7 linked regions of the Homo sapiens genome follow. The protein of the gene in region 1 purifies or fractionates together with the protein of each later gene. This does not show direct contact. Each region holds a gene or a part of one and is shown in the gene's direction. Other genes may lie near its edges.

Region 1 (3,500 bases):
CATTGATACAGAATTTTTTGTGGTGTTCTTTTATTAGCCATTTATGTCTGAATGGTCAGTAATAATACTCCCTCTTTTATTCTTGACATTATTAACTTATGTCTTCAGTCTTTTTCTTGCTCAGTCTGTCTAGAGGTTTATCAATTTTACTGATCTCTTCAAAGATCCAGATTTTGGTTTAATTTTGTCTATTATTTTTCTGTTTTCAATTTAATTGATTTCTGCTCTTATTTTATTATTGCCTTCCTTGTCTTTGCTTAGGTTTAATGTACTCTTCTATTTTTTAAGGGATAAGCTTATATTACTGATTTTTGTTTTAATAGAAGTATTTAATGCTATACATTTCCCTCTAGGCCTTGCTTTAGCTGCATTATACAATTTTGAAATGTATATTTGAATTTTCACTTAGTTTAAATATTTTAACATTTCTTTTGAGACTACTTATTGACCCGTATGTTATTTTAAAGTATATCATTTAATTTTAAGATATTTGGGGATTTTCTAGAAGTTTTTCTGTTATTGATTTCTAGTTTAAATCTTTTATTATCCTAGAATATGACTTGCATGATTTCTGTTCTTTTAGATTTGTTCATATTTGTTTTATGACCCAGAATGTGGTTTATCTTGGTGAATTTCAATGCACACTTGAAAATATGTGTATTCTGCTATTGATGGGTGGGATGTTCCAGAAATATCAATTAGGTCAAGTTGCTTGATAGGGTTGTTCAGGTCTTCTGTGTTCTTATTAATTTTCTGCTTGTTTTCTCTATAACCAAGAGAGGAATGTTAGCATTTCCAGTTACAATTGTGGATGTATCTATTTTTCTTTTTACTCATATCACTTCTTACTTCATGTATTTTGACTCTATGTTGTTAAGTGCATACACATTTAGGGTTGTGATGTCCTCTTGGAGAACATCTTGATCCCTTTCTTATTATGTGATGTCCCTCTGTATTTCTGTTAATATTCCTTTTTCTGTAGTCTGCTTTGGGTGTTAATAATACAGATACTCCAGCTTTTTTTGGATTAATGTTTGCATTGTATATCTTTTTGTGTTCTTTTACTTTTAACCTATATTTAGGTTATAAAATAACCTGTATACTTAAGGTGGCTTTCTTGTGGCAACATATACTTGAGTCTTATTTTTTCAACTAATCTGACAATATCTGTCTGTTAACTGGTATGTTAGACCATTTACACTTGCTATGCTATTGATATGGCTTAATTATAATCTACCATCTTGCTAGTTGTTTTCTATTTGTTCTATCTGTTCTTTTTTTTTCTTGTTTCTTGAGCTTTTTTTGTTGTTGTTGTTGTTTATTTTGTTTTTTGAGATGGGGTCCCGCTCTGTCACCCAGGCCAGAGTACAGTGGCGCAATCTTGGCTTACTGTACCCTCGACCTCCTGGTCTTGAGCATTTTTTTATATTTTCCTTATCTCCACTATGGACTTCTTACCTATGCCTCTTTACATTTTTTTAGTGATTGCTCTAGAGTTAATAATATGTATCTTTAATTAATTAGAGTCTACTTTCAAGTAGTATTATACTGTTTCATTTGTAGTCTTATAGCAGTATATTTACAGTACTTCTCTTTTATGTTTTGTGCTATTGTTATTATCATTTTTTAATATCAGCTATAAATAAAAGATTTTTTGCTTTAGACCAGGGGTCAACAAACTTTTTCTGTAAAAAAGCCAGAAAGTAATTATTTTAGGCTTTGAGGCCATAGATGGTCTCTGTTGCATATACTTTTATTCTTAAACAATTCTTTACAAATGTATTTCAAAAAACATTCTTAGTTCATTGGTTATGCTAAAACAGACCAGGGGCTAGGTTTGGCTTGTAGGTTATAGTTTGCTTACTCCTGCTTTAGACATTCAGTTATCTTTTATAGCAATTAAAATTAAGAGAAAAAATAATTTTGTTTGATTTTCATTTATATCATTTCCATCATTGTTTTCTTTGTGTAGATCCAAGTTTTGGTCTGGCAACGCCTGGATAACTTAATTTAACATTTGTTGTAGTGTAGGTCTCCTGGCAATGAATTCTAAGTTTTTGTTTCTCTTTGATTTCTATTTTTCCTGCATCTTTGGGAGATATTTTACTGGGTATAAAATTCTGGGTTGACAGTTTTTACGCTTGATCTTAGCTAAAAGGCTGAGAAGCAATGGGTTGACAATTTAAAAAAAAAATTCAGGACTTTAAAAATGTTGCTTCATTCTCTTCTTGTATGCCTCTGACAAGAAGTCTTCTGTAATTCCTATCTTTGTTCCTTTTCATTTGATGTTTCATTTTTCTTTTGCTGCTTTCAAGATTTTATTTTTGTCTTTGGTTTTCAGCTCTTTGAATATGATATGCCTGGGAGTGTGTGTGTGTGTGTGTACATGTATGCATGCGTGCACACTCTTGATATTTATCATACCTGATGTTCTTGAGCTCCTTGGATCTGTGATTTGGTATCTGTCATTAATTTTGGAAAATTCTCAGCAATTATTTTTTCAAATATTTCTTCTGCCTATTTTCTTTCTTTTCTCCTGAAATTTCAGTTACACCTAGGTTTGAATTTATGATACAGTCCCACAGCTCTTGGGCACTCCATTCGTTTTTTGCTTGTTTTATTCATGTTTTTTCTCTTCTTATTTAGTTTGGGTAATTTCTACTGATCTATTTTCAAGTTCAATGATTTTTTCCTTTGCTGTATCAAGTCCACTGAAGAATGCCTGTTGAAAGCATCCTTTATTTGTTACTGTCTTTAGCCTTTCAAATATTTCCATTTGATTCTTTCCTGCAGTTTTTCTCTCTGATAACATTTTCCATTTAATCTTTCAGATTGTCTACCCTTTCCACTACGGACTTTTATAATTAATTTTGGTTATTTAAAATTCTTTGTCTGATAGCTTCAGCATCTAGGTCTGGTTCTATTCATTGCAATGTCTTTTCGCAGTATGATCTTTTCTTGCTTTTCTCATGCCCTATAATTTTTTTTTGTTGATAACTAGACATCTTATATAGGACATTAGATATGGAGATAGGCTTTATGCATGGGAATGGGCACGCCGTTCTCTTTTTACCAGGCCTTTAGTGTGAAGATTGATCAATCTAGTCAGAAGATGAACTGGGTTTGAGGGTTCTCATTCCTCTGGTTATTCTCAGTGTACCCCCAGACTTCAAATTCCTCTAGTGATGCCTTGTATTTAGGGTTGGAGCTGGCTTGCCAAAGGCCTTTGCCATTCCCATCTTTTGGTCTTCCTGTGGTACTGGGCCCCAGAGTGGTCTGTCTCCATGCTCTTTCAACTCTCCCAGTGGTAGTCCATTGTTATTTGTGACCCGATGCTTGTTAGTCAGTGTCCAGGTACATCTGCCTCAAGTAGACAAGTGCTCATGTCTTGTCTCTTCCTGCAAGTGCCTCTCTAGATTTTGGGCTAGTTTGTTCTCCTTTGCCTCAGTTTTCTCATGGATTTGAGAAGGTTATGATCTTGTGCTTTACCTGGCTTTTTA
Region 2 (3,500 bases), on another chromosome or scaffold:
ACGTGGACAGTCACCTGTCTCCTTAATACCGTGCCCAGTGTGTGGAGTAGATGAATGCAGGAGAAGCCAGGCAGGCAGGTCCCGATTTGGCGCAGCGAACGATGGAGGTGCTGGAGATTTAGGGACAGGAAGAAGGGCCAGAGAGGTGGTGTTTGAGGCGGTATGCAGTGATAAAATTTGGGAGCCAGCTGGGAGGCGGCTGTGTGGTCCAGAGTGAGGGGGTTGAGCCCCTCCATTTGTGGTTTTGCAAAGAGGTGGGAAGGGGAGTTTCTTTGGAGATCCAGTTTTTGGGTTCTGGGACACCCTCCAGGTTTAACCACATGGTCTCTGTCTTTTCCCGCTGTAGATATCAATGAGTGTTTGAGTATCAGTGCCCCGTGCCCTATCGGGCATACATGCATCAACACAGAGGGCTCCTACACGTGCCAGAAGAACGTGCCCAACTGTGGCCGTGGCTACCATCTCAACGAGGAGGGAACGCGCTGTGTTGGTTGGTATTAAGAAAACAAATCTGAAATCCACTTTCCTGTCTGCTTCCAGCATGCACCCTGCCTTCTCTGGAAGCAGAAAGTTGATCCCCAAAGCAAAGCCATTTCTATCAGCCCATCCATCCCACTGTCAGTTCCCAAGCATGGGGCTTCATTGTCTTGCCTGGACTGGTGCACCAGCCCGTCTACTGCCTCAGCCTTGTCTGGCTTGTCCTGAGCCCAAAGCTCTCGCACCCCACCCTGTTTACAGTTCCATCAGCTCCCCGTTGGTGACAAAGGATGGATGCCTCTGCTTACAGTCCAGTCCCCCAGAGCTGGCCCAACTCCACAAACCTTGTAATTCAGGCAATGTGGGTCTGCCACTCCCCACACAAGCACTGTCCTTTCCTCTCTGTGTGGGTGTTTGCTCTCACGTCATTCCCTCTGCCCACCTGCTCCTACGTTCCTTTGGATCCAGGGCACCCAGCCTGCCTAGATCCCGCCAGGGAAGGAGCCTTCCTCGCATAACCCCCAGGACACTTCTTCAGTGTCTCCCTGGGTTCCTGGGCACTTCCTACCTTAATGAGAGTCATTGCTGGCCTGCCAGCCAGGTAGGGCTGCCTCTGGGTCAGCTATCTTCCCAGTCCAGGGCCCGGCACTCAGTAGGTGCTCTGTGAAGTCGTGTTGAAATGGAATGCCTGTTTCCATGTCCATGTGTTCCTTTCTTGCTTTCCTTTCTGATCATCTTGGGGGGAAAAAACCCAAACTAAAGGTTTTCATCATGGCTTTCTTTCTCCTTTGCAAGATGTGGACGAGTGCGCGCCACCTGCTGAGCCCTGTGGGAAGGGACATCGCTGCGTGAACTCTCCCGGCAGTTTCCGCTGCGAATGCAAGACGGGTTACTATTTTGACGGCATCAGCAGGATGTGTGTCGGTGCGTGGGGGGCCCCGCAGGCCTCGGGGGAACCCAGCCACGTGGCACCAGGGACACATTTCTGTGGCACCTCGAGTGATGTGGTCTGATCCTCATCTCAGATAATCCCAAGTGCAGGCAGACCCTGAGAGAAGATCCTGAGTCAGGAGACCCCATTCTAGCCCCAGCTCTGCTACTGCCCAGCCAGGCGGCCACTGGCACCACCCCCCTGTGTGTGAGCCTGCTCCCCATCTGTGGAAAGGGGTTCTGCTTGACCCAGGACCTCCAAGTGCTGATGAGCCAGGTCTACACATGTGGGCAGCATCAGCGATTTCCTGGAGATTCACCGCTGAGCTGTAGATCCCCAGGAGCTAGAGATGTGTGCCTTTAGCCCAGGGCAGCGAGGGGAAAAGTTGACCAGGAGTGGGGTCAGGTCTTGTCCAGCCAGTGCCTGCTGTCACCAAACCTAGGTGCTCAGGGAAGCCTGGCAGCTGCCAACCACTCCCCCAAAGTGGGCACTTTGCTAGATCCTGGCAGACCCTCCTTGTGGGTCCTGGGGAGGAGGACTGGCAGGAGGGCACAAGTTCAGATGTGCTGCCGCAGAAGGAGCACGAGGCTCGCCCACCAGGCAGGCACAGCGCGGCAGTCCCGGCTCTCCCACTGACTTCCCGCATGCTCGGGACAAGTCACTTTGCATTCCTTGTCTGAGAAATGAGGCTGGAGGCCAGGCGCGATGGCTCATGCCTGTAATCCCAGCACTTTGGGAGGCTAAGGCAGGTGAATCACTTGAGGTCAGGAGTTTGAGACCAGCCTGGCCAACATGACGAAACCTCATCTCTACAAAAAATACAAAAATTAGCCGGGCGTGGTGGCACATGCCTGTAATCCCTGTTACTTGGGAGGCTGAGGCAGGAGAATCACTTGAACTGGGAGGCGGAGGTTGCAGTGAGCTGAGATCATGCCACTGCAATCCAGCCTAGGAGACAGAGCGAGACTCCATCTCAAAGATGAAGGAAAAAAAAGAAATGAGGCTGGAGGAGGTGGAGGACAAAGGACATGAGCTGGCCTTACTAGGAGGGTGGAGTGTGGTGCCACTGTGTTGGACATTGCCCTGAGTCAGCCCACCCCTCACTTTCAGATGTCAACGAGTGCCAGCGCTACCCCGGGCGCCTGTGTGGCCACAAGTGCGAGAACACGCTGGGCTCCTACCTCTGCAGCTGTTCCGTGGGCTTCCGGCTCTCTGTGGATGGCAGGTCATGTGAAGGTGAGGCTGGGGCCCCGTCCACTCACCTCCCCCAGGTCACCTTCCTCCTGGGGAAGCCACCCTTCTGCAGACCGGTTTGCAGCAGATCCGCGATGGTTTCCCTGTTAAATGACATGTTAGCAGGGGAAGTGCCTGTAAAATATTGTTCATCAGAGAGGACTGCCCGCCTGCCCACCCGATTTCTCCTGATGACATCCACCCTCCGAGGCCGTGTCGGGGTTCATAGGCTGCGGCAGAGGCCATGCGGGATGTGGCTAGGATTATGGGGCTTGGAGCATGACACCCACGAGTCACAGGGCCTTGGTTATGCCCGACCTCTCCCTGCCTCCGTGTCCTCCCCGGGGAGAGGGGTTGATGTGTGAAACAGCAGCGAAAACTGGACACTTGTTTTGCACAAAGACAGTGTGTGGGTTTTAATCAGATGCTGCCTAGGGGAGACAGGCCTCTGTGTCCATTGATCTCAAGTCACCCAAACAAAAGGAGGGAGGCTTTGTAAATGACGAGCTGTGAGAGGAAGTACTGAGGCCTTTAGGGCGTGGGTCACTGTGCACCTGCCTCTAACTTCTTTTTTTTTTTTTGAGACGGAGTCTCGCTCTGTCACCCAGGCTGGAGTGCAATGCTACGATCTCGGCTCACTGCAACCTCCGCCTCCCGGGTTCAAGCGATTCCCCTGCCTCAGCCTCCCGAATAGCTGGGATTACAGGTGCACACCACCATGCCCAGCTAATTTTTGTATTTTTAGTAGAGACAGGGTTTCCCCATGTTGGCCAGGCTGGTCTTGAACTCCTGACCTCAGATGATCCGCCCACCTCGGCCTCCCAAAGTGCTGGCATTACAGGCGTGAGCCACCGCGCCC
Region 3 (2,950 bases), on another chromosome or scaffold:
GTGCCTGGCGCGTCCCAAGCCTCTGGCCCCTTTTGGTAGTTTGCAGTCCCGGGTTTGAGTACAGGCTCTGGCTTTGTTAGACTGTGTGACCTGAGGCGTAAGACCTCAGTGTTCCCATCTGTCGAGTGGAAGAAGGGATCCCTGACCGATGGGAGGCAGGCGTGGGGTCGCCCTCGGTCAGCCCAGAGCCCCTCGTGCCCCCTAGCACCAGCTGTACGTAGCCTCGCGGAGCGCGGTGGCCCAGATCGCGTTGCACCGCTGCGCTGCCCACGGCCGCGTCTGCACCGAATGCTGTCTGGCGCGTGACCCCTACTGCGCCTGGGACGGGGTCGCGTGCACGCGCTTCCAGCCCAGTGCCAAGAGGTGGGCGGGGTCGGGGTTGGGCCGCCGGGAGGGAGGCGAAGGGTCTTTCACTGCCCGGGGCTGAAAGAAGGGCTCACAGAAGATCGGATGTTCCCCACAGGCGGTTCCGGCGGCAAGACGTAAGGAATGGCGACCCCAGCACGTTGTGCTCCGGAGGTGAGTGCCCCAGCTGCCCCTACCCTCAGCCCCAGAAGACGCCCCACCTGCCCTGCCTTGCCTAAATCTGACTTTCTTCTCGCCCCAAGACTCGTCTCGTCCCGCGCTGCTGGAACACAAGGTGTTCGGCGTGGAGGGCAGCAGCGCCTTTCTGGAGTGTGAGCCCCGCTCGCTGCAGGCGCGCGTGGAGTGGACTTTCCAGCGCGCAGGGGTGACAGCCCACACCCAGGTGAGCCTTACTCCGCCCTCCCCGCCAGGCTCCTGTCCCACCCCCTGCATCCAGGAGAGGCCCCGCCCTACCCAACGAAGCCCCGTCCAACCAGACCCACTCCCCGCCCTGTCCAGTTTGGTCCCTCACCTGCACTCCACAAGCTGCTGAGGCCCCATTGCGTCCAACGGGGCTCCCGACCCGCCTCCCCTGAATCAAGGAGAAGACCCGCCCTCGACCCTCCCATTAAGGTCCCTGACCACCCCCCACCAAGTTCATGTAAACCCCGCCTCTTTCGGATTCTCCCTTGAAGACCACCAGCTCCCAAACACTCAGCCTTAAAATGTGCGCCTGCGGGCACCCCTTTCCCGCTCCACCTCGGCTCCCAATGACTCTTTGCTTCTTCCGTCGCGTGCTAGGGCCCGGAAGCCCTGTTCCCGGCCCGACACCCCCGCCTCACGCTGCCCTCTGCCCGCAGGTGCTGGCAGAGGAGCGCACCGAGCGCACCGCCCGGGGACTACTGCTGCGCAGGCTGCGGCGCCGGGACTCGGGCGTGTACTTGTGCGCCGCCGTCGAGCAGGGCTTTACGCAACCGCTGCGTCGCCTGTCGCTGCACGTGTTGAGTGCTACGCAGGCCGAACGACTGGCGCGGGCCGAGGAGGCTGCGCCCGCCGCGCCGCCGGGCCCCAAACTCTGGTACCGGGACTTTCTGCAGCTGGTGGAGCCGGGCGGAGGTGGCAGCGCGAACTCCCTGCGCATGTGCCGCCCGCAGCCTGCGCTGCAGTCACTGCCCCTGGAGTCGCGGAGAAAGGGCCGTAACCGGAGGACCCACGCCCCTGAGCCTCGCGCTGAGCGGGGGCCGCGCAGCGCAACGCACTGGTGACCAGACTGTCCCCACGCCGGGAACCAAGCAGGAGACGACAGGCGAGAGAGGAGCCAGACAGACCCTGAAAAGAAGGACGGGTTGGGGCCGGGCACATTGGGGGTCACCGGCCGATGGAGACACCAACCGACAGGCCCTGGCTGAGGGCAGCTGCGCGGGCTTATTTATTAACAGGATAACCCTTGAATGTAGCAGCCCCGGGAGGGCGGCACAGGTCGGGCGCAGGATTCAGCCGGAGGGAAGGGACGGGGAAGCCGAGCTCCAGAGCAACGACCAGGGCCGAGGAGGTGCCTGGAGTGCCCACCCTGGGAGACAGACCCCACCTCCTTGGGTAGTGAGCAGTGAGCAGAAAGCTGTGAACAGGCTGGGCTGCTGGAGGTGGGGCGAGGCAGGCCGACTGTACTAAAGTAACGCAATAAACGCATTATCAGCCAAAGCTGGAATGGCCCCAGCAGAAAACCCCAGTCCTCGGCCTTGCTATGTGGTCTTGGGCACCTTACTAGCGGTGTCAGGGCCCGAGTTTCTCCTGTCCAAGGTTGCCTGGTGAGGATTAAAGGTGGTTCCGGCCAGGCGCGGTGGCTCACGCCTGTAATCCCAACACTTTCGGAGGCCCAGGCGGACGGATCACGAGGTCAGGAGATGGAAACCATCCCGGCTAACACGGTGAAACCCCGTCTGTACTAAAAATACAAAAAATTAGTCGGGCGTGGTGGCGGGCGCCTGTAATCCTAGCTACTCAGGAGGCTGAGGCAGGAGAATTGCTTGAACCTGGGAGGTGGAGGTTGCAATGAGCCTAGATCTCGCCGCTGCACTCCAGCCTGGGCGACAGAGCGAGACTCCAAAAAAAAAAAAAAAAAAAAAAAAAAAGGTGGTTCCGCGTGACTGAACAGGTTCTGTAGGGCCTTTGGGAATAGTGACACGCAGGGTACATTGTGCATAATATAACTTCAGGACTAAGTGCTAGGAAGAAAATAAAACTGGACCGGGCGCAGTGGCTCACGCCTGTAATCCCAGCATTTTGGGAGGCCGAAGCAGTCGGATCATGAAGTCAGGAGTTCAAGACCAGCCTGACCAACATGGTGAAACCCTGTCTCTACTAAAAATACAAAACTTAGGTGGGTGTGATGGCACGCGCCTTTAATCCCAGCTACTCAGGAGGCTGAGGTAAGATAATTGCTTGAACCAGGGAGGCAGAGGTTGCAGTGAGCCGAGATCGCCCCACTGCACTCCAGCCTGGGCAACAGAGCGAGACTCTGTCTCAAAGAAAAGAAAACTGGGTGATGTGGAAAAGAATGTACACAGAAGGCCTCACTGAAGGGGTGGCATTTGAGTTCGCTGAC
Region 4 (3,500 bases), on another chromosome or scaffold:
TTGCGGGGTCTTTGTGGTGTTTTCAATTTCTCCTCTCTCCACCCCTGCCCCCATCTGTGGCCATCTAAGTTAGCAATACAATTTATTTTGGCCATTTAAAATTTTTCTGCCTTTGTTTTATTTCTTCCCAAATATATTTGAAAATGAATGATCTATATAGCTGATTTTCTGACCACATATATAATTGCAATTTTTATTTGCTCTTCAAACTATTACAACATTTTTGTCCTTATAAGGTTTTTTGGGCAGATAATGCGAGGTCTGTGGTGTTACCTTTTATATACTCCTATTACCTTATGTTTGTGAAGCATTTTACATTTTACAGAGCACTTTGATTCATCTCCCTATTTGTTCATTTATTTAACTGTTCAGTTCACTGAAATATTTATTGAACACCTACTGGAACCAAGTGACTGTGCTAGTAACTTGTGATATACAGTAGTGAGAGTCCAGGCATGTAACCGATCATTATAATACAATAACATCCCTAAACCAGACTTTACAAGTAGATAGGATCAACAATACTCTATCAATTTTCAACTCCAATTTTCTATTCTACTTAAAATGGGAACTAGAAACTGTTTGCCTGAAGAATGTGTCTGAAACATAATATATCACTGCATGTCTGTGCTGTAGACCTGTTAATTTTATCTGTGAGAAAAAAAGTTACTCAAAATTCTCCCTGACCTAAGAATACTTTCTAGTTCACTGCAGTCTTACTGACCAGATGCAACAGTTGAAGTTTGATTTCTCGACCCAATATTTCTATTGGGTTTTGAATTATTAATATCACTGTTTTGAGGTATTCAGAAACACCAGTGTATCAAAAAAGCATTTGCACTTTAGGTGTGTGTGGTGGTTATGTCATTTATTAGACCATCCCAGACATAAGACAATCAGGGAAATCAGAAAACTCCAGCCTCAAATGTGTCTATAATTTCCTGTTCTACCATTGTCATATCATAACATGGTATTACTTCTTAAGGTTTTGATTAAGTTGATCTAGCCTCAACTTAAATTGTAATACATCTGCCTAATTATTGTCTGGAATAACTTTTCAACCATCCAATGCCCACTGCTCTCACAATGATTATTGTAGAGAAGTAAAATGGTAATTATTCAAGTAAAGTCACATAATTTCTGGAGTCAGTTTTTCATAACAAGTTTATGGAATACATCATCATTGGCTTCTTCATAATATATTTATTATGAGTGACCAAATTTTGCCTGGAGGAGCAAAATGCTCAAAACTTGTTATTATAGGTTAATTTCCAGCTCACTGTTGACACTGAAAGATTCTGTGTTACTTTAAACCCAGGATAAAAGGCTGGAAAAAAAATTAAATGTAAGTCATAAACTAGTACTCAGCTTTTCCTAGTTTCTAAGGCTTATTAACATTTGCAAATTACTCAATAAATGTCTTTCATAATGGAATAACATAAAAGCTTTTGATTTGGCAGATAGTGATATTTTATTTATTTTCATTCTGGTTGAAAAAAATCTCAGTGGCTTCTCTTCATTCCACGAGAATTTTGATTTTTAACAGCAGTCTCTCTTTTTCTCAGCATTGCAAATATATATGTATATATACATTCATGACCAAAGTATCGCTTACTGACCATGCAGCTGTAAACCTTCTGTGCCTATCAAACAAATACATAGCATGAAACTAATTTTAGAAGTTTCATGGGGGAATTTTAGGGGAAAGTATAAACCTAAGAGTGAGTGAATGGAGATGATTCATGGAAAAAAAAATAAAAATCTAAATGTGCTATTAGGCAGAGTTATTAACTTCTTTTAGTTGTTGTTTGAGATGGGGTTTTGCTCTTGTTACCCAGGCTGGAGTGCAATGGCGTGATCTCGTCTCACTGCAACCTCCGCCTCCCAGGTTCAAGCGATTCTCCTGCCTCAGCCGCCCAAGTAGCTGGGATTACAGGCATATGCCACTACAGCCGGCTAATTTTGTATTTTTAGTAGAGACGGGGTTTCTCCATGCTGGTCAGGCTGGTCCCCAGCTCCCGACCTCAGGTGATCCGCCCACCTCCGCCTCCCAAAGTGCTGGAATTACAGGCCTGAGCCACCGTGCCTGGCCGAGTTATTAACTTCTTAAGAGCAATGTGCTAATAAATACTCATTGATGACCAGCTCAAATTTAGGTCATTCAGACATCCAGACACTGGGGCACATATTCTGCAAGCAATGCTGAGACCCCTGACATAGAGAAAGCAAAGGATATGCCTATGATTAGTCTAAAATGCAGCCATCACCCCCCATACCTCTTCTATGGCATTCATCCTAACATCATGGAGGCCTTTGTCCTAGAGAATTATGTGACTTGCCCTAGAGAATTAGTGAATGACCAAAAAGAGACTTTCCATTTATCTTCCTTTGACTTAAAAGGCATGAAAATAAGGCAAAAAAATCAATAAAATAATTTTCCTGAGGAAAGGTTAAGAGATGGCACTTTCCTTTCCGGGCCCAGAGCTGGATTTCTCTGAGATTTGACCATCTCAGGACTCAGACAGACTCCAGTGCTATTTTCTGGACATTTGTGGTGAAGCCTCAGCCACCATGTTCAAGGTGGTTTGAATGAAAACATACTCAGATTGTCACATTTATAGCAGGGAAATAAAAACTCAAATTAGGCATCCTGCAGCAGGCTACTCTGAAAATAACATTAGGCAACATCAGAGCTTCACTTGCAAAGAAATGTTAAAATCATTTTAGGGAAATCAGTGAAGTCTCTTTAGAAACAGACATCTTGTGTATGGCGTAACCCAGTCTTGGGGCCCTCACGGAGAAGAGGGGGAAGTCTTTTCATTGATTGGTCAAAACAAATCTCTCATTTGCCTGATTTGAAGCATTTCAACAGTGCCTGGAGAGTACATTATTTTCAGGGGAAAAAAAGGAGAGAGTCTTTTTTATATGCCAGCTGGGATCATGGGAACTTCGAATGCCAGGAATTTACTACTGTTTCTGGTAATTCTGTGTGTAGTCATTTGAAATGTTGAAGTGTGAAAAGAGAAGAAATTGGGCACTTCTTGCGGCGGGGGAGGGGGGGGGGGCGGTGGCTTTCCAGATTTTATGCCAGTTGCACCAGCATGCAGAATATTTGTAATGCATTTCAAAGTGGATATAATGGCACCCTTTGTCAGAATCACAAAGCTCACTGCGGCACTGCTACAAGAGGACACTGAGGAAAATCTGGCCCTATGAACCTAGTCAACCCCAAGCAAAAAGAATGACTATGTGTGTGAGTGCAGCACATGGCCAGTTCGTTTCTCACTGTTTTGGAAAGCCCTGTGTGCCAAACCAAGGACGTGTCTTTCAGGGAAAGGTTAATTTTCCGAAGTTTATTAAAATAGAACTTGGAAAACCAAGCATTTTGAATTTATTCCAGTCCTCTGGGCATCATTCCTATTTCTTCTGCCATGTCAAGGAGAAATTCCAAGCCTGCATTCTGTCATGCTAAAATAACCAGCCCATACTTCTCGGTGACC
Region 5 (3,500 bases), about 64 Mb from region 1:
AAATTTTTTTGTAGACAGGATCTCTCTATGTTGCCCAGGCTGGTCTTGAACTCCTGGCCTCAAGCCATCCCCCTGCCTCGCCTTGCCAAAGTGCTTGGGATTATAGGTGTTAGCCACCACACCCAGTTATTTCTTTTAACAGGTCAAGAATTATTTGATGCCCCAATTCTGATATGAACTCATGACTGATTCTGCTGCTCCTGCTAGTTCTTTCTGATGGTGCTTTGTTTTTTTGTGTGTATTTTATGGTTTAAATTATGAACTTATTCTTTGGATGTTTATATATGCCAGATGCTTGGTATCAATTCTAATTTAAGACCACTTAAAATTCTTGACCCAAGGTCTTTGGAACCATTTGATAGAATTTGGGCTATAAACCCATGAGGACTGGTTTGTGGTTATGGCTTTTTGTGTTATTTTGTGCCCCTAGGGCAGGGGGCTTTCACTGGGGTAATTTTTGTAATCCCCTAGGGAGGATTTCTAGCCTACCCATGCATTGAGAGTATATTAGGGTCTTGGTTTTATGAGGAATCTTCTGTTAATTATCCCACCTTCACTAGGCCTTTGTCCAATAATGCTGTGGACCTTAAGCTTAGATTTTTACCTGCTTGGGCAAATACCCTCATGGTGAAAAGCCTTCTTTAGTGCTTCCAGTCACCAGTTCCTCTTCGTCTTGGTTTTTACCTTCTTGCTGGCTTATCAAGGCTTTTTTTTTTTTTTTTTTTTTTTTTTTTGAGACAAAGCCTCACTCTGTTGTGAGGCTGGAGTGCAGTGGCGCGATCTCAGCTCACTGCAACCCTACCTCCTGGGTTTAAGCAATTCTCATGCCTCAGCCTCCCAAGTAGTTGGGATTACAGGTGCCAGCCACCACGCCCAGCTAATTTTTGCATTTTTAGTAGAGACGGGGTTTCAACATGTTGACCAGGCTGGTCTTGGACTACTGACCTCAAGTGATCCACCCGCCTCGACCCCCGCAAAGTGCTCAGATTACAGGCGTGAGCCACTGCACCCAGCCTGTATCAGTCATTTTAAATTATTTTCATGTGGAGTATAAATCAGAGTAATGAATCCAGCACATGGCTAAAACTTCCCGTATCATTTTACTAAGTCATTTCTAGTCATTTTGGAAAGGACATATGAGGTTAAATGAGCACCTGAAACATTCATAAAAATGAAATCAAGAGTGGCCTTTACAACTGGTAACTAAAGATATTTCTTTTTTTTATAGGTGTCAGCTGTGATGCATGTTTAAAAGGAAATTTTCGAGGTCGCAGATATAAGTGTTTAATTTGCTACGATTACGATCTTTGTGCATCTTGTTATGAAAGTGGTGCAACAACAACAAGGCATACAACTGACCACCCAATGCAGTGCATATTAACAAGGGTAGATTTTGGTAAGTAATTAAAAATTTAATGAATTACATCATTTAGAATTTTATGTACGTTGAAGAAGTAAAGGCAAAGTGTTCTAAAACTCCCCAGCAGCATACCATAAGCCCCAAATTCATTAAACATGAAATAAATCTTACTTTTTTTTGAGACGGAGTTTCGCTCTTGTTGCCCAGGCTGGAGTGCAATGGCGCGATCTTGGCTCACTGCAACCTCCACCTCCCTGGTTCAAGCAATTCCCCTGCCTCAGCCACCCGAGTAGCTGGGATTACAGGTGCACACCACCACGCCTGGCTAATTTTTTTGTATTTTTAGTAGAGACAGGGTTTCACCACGTTGGCCAGACTGGTCTCGAACTCCTGACCTCAGTCAATCTGCCCGACTCAGCCGCCCAAAGTGCTGGGATTATAGGCGTGAGCCACTGTGCCTGGCTTTTTTTTTTTTTTTTTTTTTTTTTTTGAGGAGTCTTACCCTGTCGCCTAGGCTGGAGTGCAATGTCGTGATCTCAGCTCGCTGCAACCTCCACCCCCCAGGTTCAAGCGATTCTCCTGCCTCAGCCTCCCAAGGAGCTGGGATTACAGGCGTGCACCACCATGCCCGGCTGATTTTTTGTATCTTTAGTAGAGATAGGGTTTCACCATGTTAACCAGGCTGGTCTTGAACTCCTAACCTAATGATACACCTGCCTCGGCCTCCAAAGTGCTGGGATTACAGGCGTAAGCCACCGCGCCCGGCCTTACTTTTTACGTACTAAGTAATTCTGTCTGTTCATCTTAATCATAGTTTACTTGTTTAAAAAAACCATTCAGAAATATACACAACTGACAAGGAATGAAATAGAAGAGTGCTTCAGTAAAGAAGAAATATGCTCTGTCTTTTGTTCGTGCTATTAACACACAAATAATAGCTTTATTTTATTTTATTTTTTATTTTTTTAAGACAGAGTCTCACTCTGTCGCCCACGCTGGAATGCAGTGGCCGGATTTCGGCTCACTGCAACATCTGCCTCCTGGCTTCAAGCAATTCTCGTGCCTCAGCCTCTTGAGTAGCTGAGACTACAGGTGTGTGCCACCTTGCCCAGCTAATTTTTTTGTATTTTTAGTAGAGATGAAGTTTCACTATGTTGGCCAGGCTGGTCTTGACCTCAAGTTATCCACCTGCCTTCGCCTCCCAAAGTGCTGGGATTACAGACGTGAGCCACCATGCCCAGCAATAATAGCTTTTGTAGTGACCAGAAAACAGATTGTTGGCTGGTTATGGTGGCTAACGCCTGTAATCCCAGCCCTTTGGGAGGCTTAAGATGGTCAGATCACTTGAGCCCAGGAGTTTGAGATGAGCCTGGGCAACATGGCAAAAACCCTGTCTCTGCATCCACCCCCGAAAAATACAATAAATTAGCTGGATGTGGTGGCGCACATGCATCTGTAGCCCTAGCTACTTGGGAGGCTGAGATGGGAGGATCACTTGAGCCCAGGAGGTCAAGTGTGCAGTGAACCCTGATTGTGCCACTACATTCCGGCCTGGCCAACAAAGCAAGACGCTATCTCAAAAAAAAAAAAAGGCAGATTGTTTCTACAGTTGATTAGAAGACATTGTAAGAAAATATATAAATGTTTCATGCTATAATTTTTTTTTTTTTTTTTTTTGAGACAAGAGTTTCACTCTTGTCGCCTAGGCTGGAGTGCAATGGCGCCATCTCAGCTCACTGCAACCTCCACCTCCTGGGTTCAAGCGATTCTCCTGCCTCAGCCTCCTGAATAGCTGGGATTACAGGTGCCCGCCACCATGCCCAGAAAATTTTTTTTGTATTTTTAATAGAGACAGGGTTTCACCATGTTGGCCAGGCTGGTCTTGAACTCCTAATCTTAGGTGATCCACTTGCGGGCCTCCCAGAGTGCTGAGATTACAGACATGAGCCACCACGCCTGGCTTCGTGCTATAATTTCTTACCTAGCCCACACTTTTTGTCCTTTTTATTTCAGCCATCCTAGTAGGTGTAAAGTAGTATCTCAGGTGGTTTTGATTTATATTTCTCTGAAATATAAATTATGTTGAGCATCTTTTCTTGTGCTTATGGGCCATTTGTATATCTACTTTGAAGAAATACCT
Region 6 (3,389 bases), on another chromosome or scaffold:
AATGTGTGTGGTGGGGGAAGGGAAGAGAAGAGTGCCTCTCTTATCTTTATTTTTTTCCTTTTAAAATTTCCACTTCCTAAAAACAAAATAAAACCCTTGTTAACCAAGTGCTCTCCCGTCACTGCAGGGCACGAAGGGCTACCCCGGCCTCAAGGGGGACGAGGGAGAAGCCGGGGACCCCGGAGACGATGTAAGTGTGGATGGGAGGCAGGGCCAGCCCCAAGTCCACCTGAGCCAGAGGGCTGGGCCCTTGAAGGGCAGTGGACCAGGACCCGCTTGGGGAGGCCTCATGGGCCCCGGCTGCTGGATGCTCTGTGGACGGGGCCAGCGCGCAGATGCCCGGGTGGTGCACGGTCTGTTGACACAACGCTGTTCCCTTCTAGAACAACGACATTGCACCCCGAGGAGTCAAAGGAGCAAAGGGGTACCGGGGTCCCGAGGGCCCCCAGGTGGGTGGATGTGGCTGGGTGAGGCCACGGTGGGCTGTGCCTGGGACGCCGGATGCTGGGGCTGGGGAATGCTGGAAGAGGCTGGGAGAGTGGGAGGCGGCGGGAGGGAATTTTGGGGAGCACGTCATCTGGGAGGCCCTGGGGGTGGGAGGTGCCGGTCACCAGGGCCAGGTGGTGGCCAGGGCAGCAGAGCCGAGCCCAGGGACACAGCGGGTCCTCAGGGTGGGGCCCACCTGGGATGGCCGCCTGGACCACCAGTGTGCGAAGCCCCAGCTGCCCTCACAGCACCGTCACTGGAGGACGAGGGGCTGGGTAGGGAGGGACCGGGCAGGGGTGGGCTTGATGAGGGGCAGGGCCCTGGGGGTGGGGGCTGTCTCAGCTCAGGAAGCACAGTGGGCTCCTCACCCTCAGAGCTCCTCTACTCCGTTTCTCGGACAGGGACCCCCAGGACACCAAGGACCGCCTGGGCCGGACGTAAGTGGGGCTCTGTGAACATTGCTGGGGGCGACCACTGTAGCTTCCATCCCTTGGGGTGTGGGTCCTGTCCATGGGTGCTCCTGTAGACGCTGCTCACGGGGGGGTGGGTTGTGGACAAAGAGCTGGTGCCAGGCCCTAGGGACCCGTGACGGCCATGGGAGGACCCGTGAGGATCATAGGGGGATGTGTGAGGACCATAGAGGGGACATGTGAGGATCATGGGGGACATGTGAGGATCATGGGGGGGACGTGTGAGGATCATGGGAGGACGTGAGGATCATGGAGGGGGACATGTGAGGATCATGGGGGACCCGTGAGGATCATGGGGGACCCGTGTGAGGATCATGGGGGGGGACGTGTGAGGATCATGGGGGGACCTGTACCCATGAGGACCATGAGGGGACCCGTGACGGCCACGGGGAGACCCATGACTGCGCTGTTTCTATGACCACGTCAGGGGTCCAGCCCAGTAGCAGGGGTGTAGTGGGCAGAGCCGGGCACACCTGCAAAGAACCTCCTGCCCAAACCCCGCCCTGTGGGGGCCCCAGGGAGGGTGACCTGGAGATCCAGCAGCCCACAGTCCCCGCTGGGAGGGGCTGTCTATGGCCCCAGTACCCTCGTCTCTCCCTCCCCAGGAATGCGAGATTTTGGACATCATCATGAAAATGTGCTGTGAGTATCTCTGAGAAGCCGTCCTCGTTAGGGAGAGCAGGGCCGCCAGCCTGGCCTGTTCCACTCCTAGAAGGGTGTCTCCACTGTTGGGGGCCTGGGTCTCTGGGTACATCCTTGAGGAGGCTCCTCAGCCAGCCCCTACCGGCCTCCAAAGCCCTCCCAGGCCCCCGGGTCCCCGCACAGGCTGAGAGTCCCCGGTGCGGTGCAGAGCTGCCACGTGGGGAGGGCGGCCGGGGAGGCGGGGAGGCGGGGCAGGAGGCCGGGGAAGGGGGGAGGCCGGGGAAGGAGGGCGGCCGGGGAGGCGGGGAGGCTGCCCCAAGAGTAAAAGCCTTTCTGACGTGCGCAGGACGCGGCCCTGACTGGTCTAACTGACTCTTTCTCTTCTCCTCAGCTTGCTGTGGTGAGACCCAGGCTCTAGCTCCTGAGAGAATGGATCCCGGGGGTCGGGGAGCGAGGCCTGGGTCCCACACATGTCACAGGACAGCACATGGCACTCTGGTCCCCGCCCGCAGCTCCCTGCACCTGCCCGCCCCCTCTGGGGCCTGCTCCAAGCCAGCAGGGTTCCCGGGTGTTGGGCTGGGCCCCGCCCTCTTTCACCCATAACTGAAATAACCAGGAGCAGGCTTGGGGGGGTCCCTGCTCCATCATTCTGGCCCACAGGCCCCACCCTAGCCTGGCTGAGCAACGCCAGCCCTGACCAGCCGCCGGACAGAGCAGCCTTTACGGGGCCATGGGAGGGGGTGGGCTTTTCTGGGGCTGAGACGGGGGGACCCCAACGTGTCAGGTGAGGATGTGGCAGCCAAGGAGGGGCCAGGGCGGTGGAGGGGAGGGGCCAGGGCACTGGAGGGGAGGGGCGTGCTCTGCTGACACCGCCCCCGCCTGCAGAATGCAAGTGCGGCCCCATCGACCTCCTGTTCGTGCTGGACAGCTCAGAGAGCATTGGCCTGCAGAACTTCGAGATTGCCAAGGACTTCGTCGTCAAGGTCATCGACCGGCTGAGCCGGGACGAGCTGGTCAAGGTGAGGCCTCGCCCCGCCCGGCTTTCTCAAGCCCAGGTGCACCCCGACCCTGCCGGCCGCCCCTGCCCGCGCCAGACCTCAGCCTCCCGAGGCCACCGCTGCATCCCTGTGACTTCCCTACTCATGACAAGGATGCCAGGCACGCGCCAGCCCGTCCAGGCCTCCAGCTCCACCTGGCGAGGCTGGCCCATTGTACACAGGCGCCCCAGATGAGGGAGGGTCTCCCCCTCTCCTTGAAGGGCGGTAGTCTGGGGTCCTGAGTGCTGGGTGTGGGCTTGTCCCTCGTGGACAGAACCCAGGAGGGCTTCATCCACCAAGGAAGATTGCTTTGCAGGGTACCCAGGTCCCGGGGGCTGTGCCACCCTCTGGGCACCCGGAGCCAATCGCAGGGTACCCAGGTCCCGGGGGCTGTGCCACCCTCTGTGCACCCAGAGCCAATCGCAGGGGACCCAGGTCCTGAGGTCCTGGGGGCCATGCCACCCTCTGGGCACCCGCAGCCAATAGAGTCACCCTTGGGAAGCTTATGCGGACCTGGGGCAGCACTCGCGTCCTGACCCCGGTGCCGGTCCCACAGTTCGAGCCAGGGCAGTCGTACGCGGGTGTGGTGCAGTACAGCCACAGCCAGATGCAGGAGCACGTGAGCCTGCGCAGCCCCAGCATCCGGAACGTGCAGGAGCTCAAGGAGTGAGTGCCCCACGCGGCCAGGACCCTCCCACCCCTCGCCCCGACCGCTGTTCCCACGGCAGGTCGGCCCTGACCCCTGATCCCAGGT
Region 7 (3,500 bases), on another chromosome or scaffold:
GGTGCGGGCGCTGGGGGCTCCGGATACAGCCTCTGCTGCGCCGCCTGTGGTGCCTGGTCTCCCGGCCCTAGCGCCCGCCAAACCTGGTGGTCCTGGGCGGCCCCGAGACCCCAACACATGCTTCTTCGAGGGGCAGCAGCGCCCCCACGGGGCTCGCTGGGCGCCCAACTACGACCCGCTCTGCTCACTCTGCACCTGCCAGGTAGGAGGTCCTGGAAGGGCACACTGGGTCCTGGGATCTGGAGCAAGGGGCCTGGACACTCCCGTCAATGCCTCTGCTCCTCTCTGCAGAGACGAACGGTGATCTGTGACCCGGTGGTGTGCCCACCGCCCAGCTGCCCACACCCGGTGCAGGCTCCCGACCAGTGCTGCCCTGTTTGCCCTGGTGAGTTCCCCGCAGGGGAGTGGAGGGAGGAGTTGGCCCAGTGCGGACAGGTCCTTTGGGGAGGGAATGAGGGTGGTCACTCTCTGCTTTCACCATTTCTTTGGCTCCACAGAGAAACAAGATGTCAGAGACTTGCCAGGGCTGCCAAGGAGCCGGGACCCAGGAGAGGGTGAGCTGGAAGGGTGCGTGCAGGGTGGGAGGCCCCAGAGGAGCCATTAGGTTGAACCAGGAGGGGGACAAGAAGGGGAGAGTATATAGGGGGTGGCCTGAGGGGCACAGATTCCAAGTGATGCCTGACAGGACTCATTAGTGTTACTGGCCCCCAGGTGGGCCCTTGGCTTAGGCTCGTGTGGGGGTGGCCTGAGGCTCAAGCCTTGGTTGTGGGCCCAGCTGATGAGCTCATACTAATGGCTGCTGGGCCCTGTTCCCCACCAGGCTGCTATTTTGATGGTGACCGGAGCTGGCGGGCAGCGGGTACGCGGTGGCACCCCGTTGTGCCCCCCTTTGGCTTAATTAAGTGTGCTGTCTGCACCTGCAAGGTATGGCCACCCAATCTTCTCTGGTGCCATAACCCAGCGGGGTCTGCAGAGATGGGGAGGGGCTGCCAGGTGAGGAAGGCCCGTCCTTGGTGAGGAGGGCTCAAGAATCAAAACGATATGAGAAAAGGCCCTTGCGCTCTGAGAGTCGGCTTCCTGTGGGAAAATGAACAGGGCTGACCTGGGTGTGGATTCTGGCTCTGCCAGCTAACTAGTGCCAGTGACCCTAGGCACCTTCTGTCCCTGAGCCTCACTTTCCTCTCCTGTAAGCAGATATGATGGCACCTACCTTGCAGGGTTCTGATGAGGAGCTGAGTTTAGGTCTATAAAGCCAGTCCGGGCCTCTGAGTAAAAGGCCACAGAGAGACTGCATTTGAGGTGTGGAATAGGAGAGGGAGTGGGCAGGAGGCTTATGTGCCCCCTGCCTGACACTCCTTGCTCAATGGATCCCTACAGGGGGGCACTGGAGAGGTGCACTGTGAGAAGGTGCAGTGTCCCCGGCTGGCCTGTGCCCAGCCTGTGCGTGTCAACCCCACCGACTGCTGCAAACAGTGTCCAGGTGAGAGAGGTGGCTGAGCACTGAGGCCTCACCTTTGGGTTGAGGCAGGCTTTGTCCTGGGTGAGGGGAAGGGTGCTCAGTTAATTGAGCATTATACTGAGCACTGCTCTGTGCCTAGCCTGGAGCCAGGACTCTAAATGCAGTGGAAAGAATGTGATATACTAGTGGGGTATGATGGGTTCTGGTTCCTGCTCCATCCATCCGTCCATCCATCCATCCATCCATCCATCCATCCATCCATCCATCCATCCGTCCATTCATCTATCTATCCACCCATACAACCATCCACCCATTGATGCATCCATCCATGCATCCATCCATCCCTCCATCCATCCACCCATCCACCCATTGATGCATCCATCCATCCATCCATCCATCCATCCATCCATCCATCCATCCGTCCCTTCATCCATCCATTCATCTGCCCACCCACCCATCCAAATTTATCACCTACTAAGTGCCAGAAACTGCAACGTGCTGGGTATTCAAAGAGAATACTCATAAAACCTTGTTGGTCCTCCTGGGCTGATCCTTTCTCTTTCCCTCTCAACAGTGGGGTCGGGGGCCCACCCCCAGCTGGGGGACCCCATGCAGGCTGATGGGCCCCGGGGCTGCCGTTTTGCTGGGCAGTGGTTCCCAGAGAGTCAGAGCTGGCACCCCTCAGTGCCCCCTTTTGGAGAGATGAGCTGTATCACCTGCAGATGTGGGGTAAGTGGGGAGCAGAGGCTTGTGTGAGGTGGGTACTGGGAGCCTGGTCTGGAGTAGGGAGACCTTCCCAGGGAGGTCCCTGAAGAAGCTGAAGGTCACTGTGTCCCAGTGCCTCTGGGGGACACTCAGTGTCTGCTCTGTCTTGTACCAGGCAGGGGTGCCTCACTGTGAGCGGGATGACTGTTCACTGCCACTGTCCTGTGGCTCGGGGAAGGAGAGTCGATGCTGTTCCCGCTGCACGGCCCACCGGCGGCGTAAGTGAGGGAGTCCAGGGTCAGCAGCTGTGAGTGGAGGGCTCACCTGCCTGTGGGACTCCTGATCAGGGAAGGGAGCACTCACTGTGTGCAGGAACAGTGCAGCCTGCCTCACAAGTGCCATTCCAATCCACCCTCACAGCAACCTGGTGGAATTGTTATTTATGACCTTTTCTTTACAAATGAGATTTCTGAAGCTCAGAGAAATTAAGCAACGAGATGAAGGTCACCCAGCTGTGTGCACTGACCTGTTTAGAAAATACTGGCCTTTCTGGGACCAAGGCAGGGATGCTTTGCCCTGCCCTCTATGCCTCTCTGTGCCTCTCCACTCCCTCTCCCCTCCTCCAACATTCCCTCCCTTCTGTCTCCAGCAGCCCCAGAGACCAGAACTGATCCAGAGCTGGAGAAAGAAGCCGAAGGCTCTTAGGGAGCAGCCAGAGGGCCAAGTGACCAAGAGGATGGGGCCTGAGCTGGGGAAGGGGTGGCATCGAGGACCTTCTTGCATTCTCCTGTGGGAAGCCCAGTGCCTTTGCTCCTCTGTCCTGCCTCTACTCCCACCCCCACTACCTCTGGGAACCACAGCTCCACAAGGGGGAGAGGCAGCTGGGCCAGACCGAGGTCACAGCCACTCCAAGTCCTGCCCTGCCACCCTCGGCCTCTGTCCTGGAAGCCCCACCCCTTTCCTCCTGTACATAATGTCACTGGCTTGTTGGGATTTTTAATTTATCTTCACTCAGCACCAAGGGCCCCCGACACTCCACTCCTGCTGCCCCTGAGCTGAGCAGAGTCATTATTGGAGAGTTTTGTATTTATTAAAACATTTCTTTTTCAGTCTTTGGGCATGAGGTTGGCTCTTTGTGGCCAGGAACCTGAGTGGGGCCTGGTGGAGAAGGGGCAGAGAGTAGGAGGTGAGAGAGAGGAGCTCTGACACTTGGGGAGCTGAAAGAGACCTGGAGAGGCAGAGGATAGCGTGGCAGTTGGCTGGCATGCCTGGGTTCCGCAGAGGGGCTGGGGATGGTTCTTGAGATGGTCTAGAGACTCAAGAATTTAGGGAAGTA

The links.
Region 2: the proteins of LYPD6B (region 1) and FBLN1 purify together in Homo sapiens (affinity purification with mass spectrometry; one large-scale study listed by BioGRID and IntAct). This does not show direct contact.
Region 3: the proteins of LYPD6B (region 1) and SEMA3B purify together in Homo sapiens (affinity purification with mass spectrometry; one large-scale study listed by BioGRID and IntAct). This does not show direct contact.
Region 4: the proteins of LYPD6B (region 1) and PLXDC2 purify together in Homo sapiens (affinity purification with mass spectrometry; one large-scale study listed by BioGRID and IntAct). This does not show direct contact.
Region 5: the proteins of LYPD6B (region 1) and KCMF1 purify together in Homo sapiens (affinity purification with mass spectrometry; one large-scale study listed by BioGRID and IntAct). This does not show direct contact.
Region 6: the proteins of LYPD6B (region 1) and COL6A1 purify together in Homo sapiens (affinity purification with mass spectrometry; one large-scale study listed by BioGRID and IntAct). This does not show direct contact.
Region 7: the proteins of LYPD6B (region 1) and CHRD purify together in Homo sapiens (affinity purification with mass spectrometry; one large-scale study listed by BioGRID and IntAct). This does not show direct contact.

Annotation. Positions count from the first base shown.
Region 1 is NC_000002.12:149,045,199-149,048,698, forward strand, and holds part of LYPD6B (ly6/PLAUR domain-containing protein 6B), read left to right. Parts: intron 1-3,500. UniProt on the Homo sapiens protein: Likely acts as a modulator of nicotinic acetylcholine receptors (nAChRs) activity. In vitro acts on nAChRs in a subtype- and stoichiometry-dependent manner.
Region 2 is NC_000022.11:45,540,883-45,544,382, forward strand, and holds part of FBLN1 (fibulin-1 isoform D precursor), read left to right. Parts: intron 1-346; coding exon 347-490; intron 491-1,272; coding exon 1,273-1,401; intron 1,402-2,518; coding exon 2,519-2,644; intron 2,645-3,500. UniProt on the Homo sapiens protein: Incorporated into fibronectin-containing matrix fibers. May play a role in cell adhesion and migration along protein fibers within the extracellular matrix (ECM).
Region 3 is NC_000003.12:50,275,097-50,278,046, forward strand, and holds the end of SEMA3B (semaphorin-3B isoform 1 precursor), read left to right. Parts: intron 1-205; coding exon 206-363; intron 364-463; coding exon 464-519; intron 520-608; coding exon 609-748; intron 749-1,205; coding exon 1,206-1,610; 3' UTR 1,611-2,450; downstream 2,451-2,950. UniProt on the Homo sapiens protein: Inhibits axonal extension by providing local signals to specify territories inaccessible for growing axons.
Region 4 is NC_000010.11:20,284,932-20,288,431, forward strand, and holds part of PLXDC2 (plexin domain-containing protein 2 isoform 1 precursor), read left to right. Parts: 3' UTR 1-3,500. UniProt on the Homo sapiens protein: May play a role in tumor angiogenesis.
Region 5 is NC_000002.12:85,026,661-85,030,160, forward strand, and holds part of KCMF1 (E3 ubiquitin-protein ligase KCMF1), read left to right. Parts: intron 1-1,228; coding exon 1,229-1,396; intron 1,397-3,500. UniProt on the Homo sapiens protein: E3 ubiquitin-protein ligase which accepts ubiquitin from an E2 ubiquitin-conjugating enzyme and then transfers it to targeted substrates, promoting their degradation by the proteasome.
Region 6 is NC_000021.9:45,998,770-46,002,158, forward strand, and holds part of COL6A1 (collagen alpha-1(VI) chain precursor), read left to right. Parts: intron 1-127; coding exon 128-190; intron 191-383; coding exon 384-449; intron 450-887; coding exon 888-923; intron 924-1,561; coding exon 1,562-1,598; intron 1,599-1,989; coding exon 1,990-1,998; intron 1,999-2,483; coding exon 2,484-2,617; intron 2,618-3,191; coding exon 3,192-3,301; intron 3,302-3,389. UniProt on the Homo sapiens protein: Collagen VI acts as a cell-binding protein.
Region 7 is NC_000003.12:184,386,554-184,390,053, forward strand, and holds the end of CHRD (chordin isoform 1 precursor), read left to right. Parts: coding exon 1-202; intron 203-291; coding exon 292-385; intron 386-497; coding exon 498-554; intron 555-820; coding exon 821-924; intron 925-1,377; coding exon 1,378-1,480; intron 1,481-2,033; coding exon 2,034-2,188; intron 2,189-2,339; coding exon 2,340-2,442; intron 2,443-2,813; coding exon 2,814-2,869; 3' UTR 2,870-3,276; downstream 3,277-3,500. UniProt on the Homo sapiens protein: Dorsalizing factor. Key developmental protein that dorsalizes early vertebrate embryonic tissues by binding to ventralizing TGF-beta family bone morphogenetic proteins (BMPs) and sequestering them in latent complexes.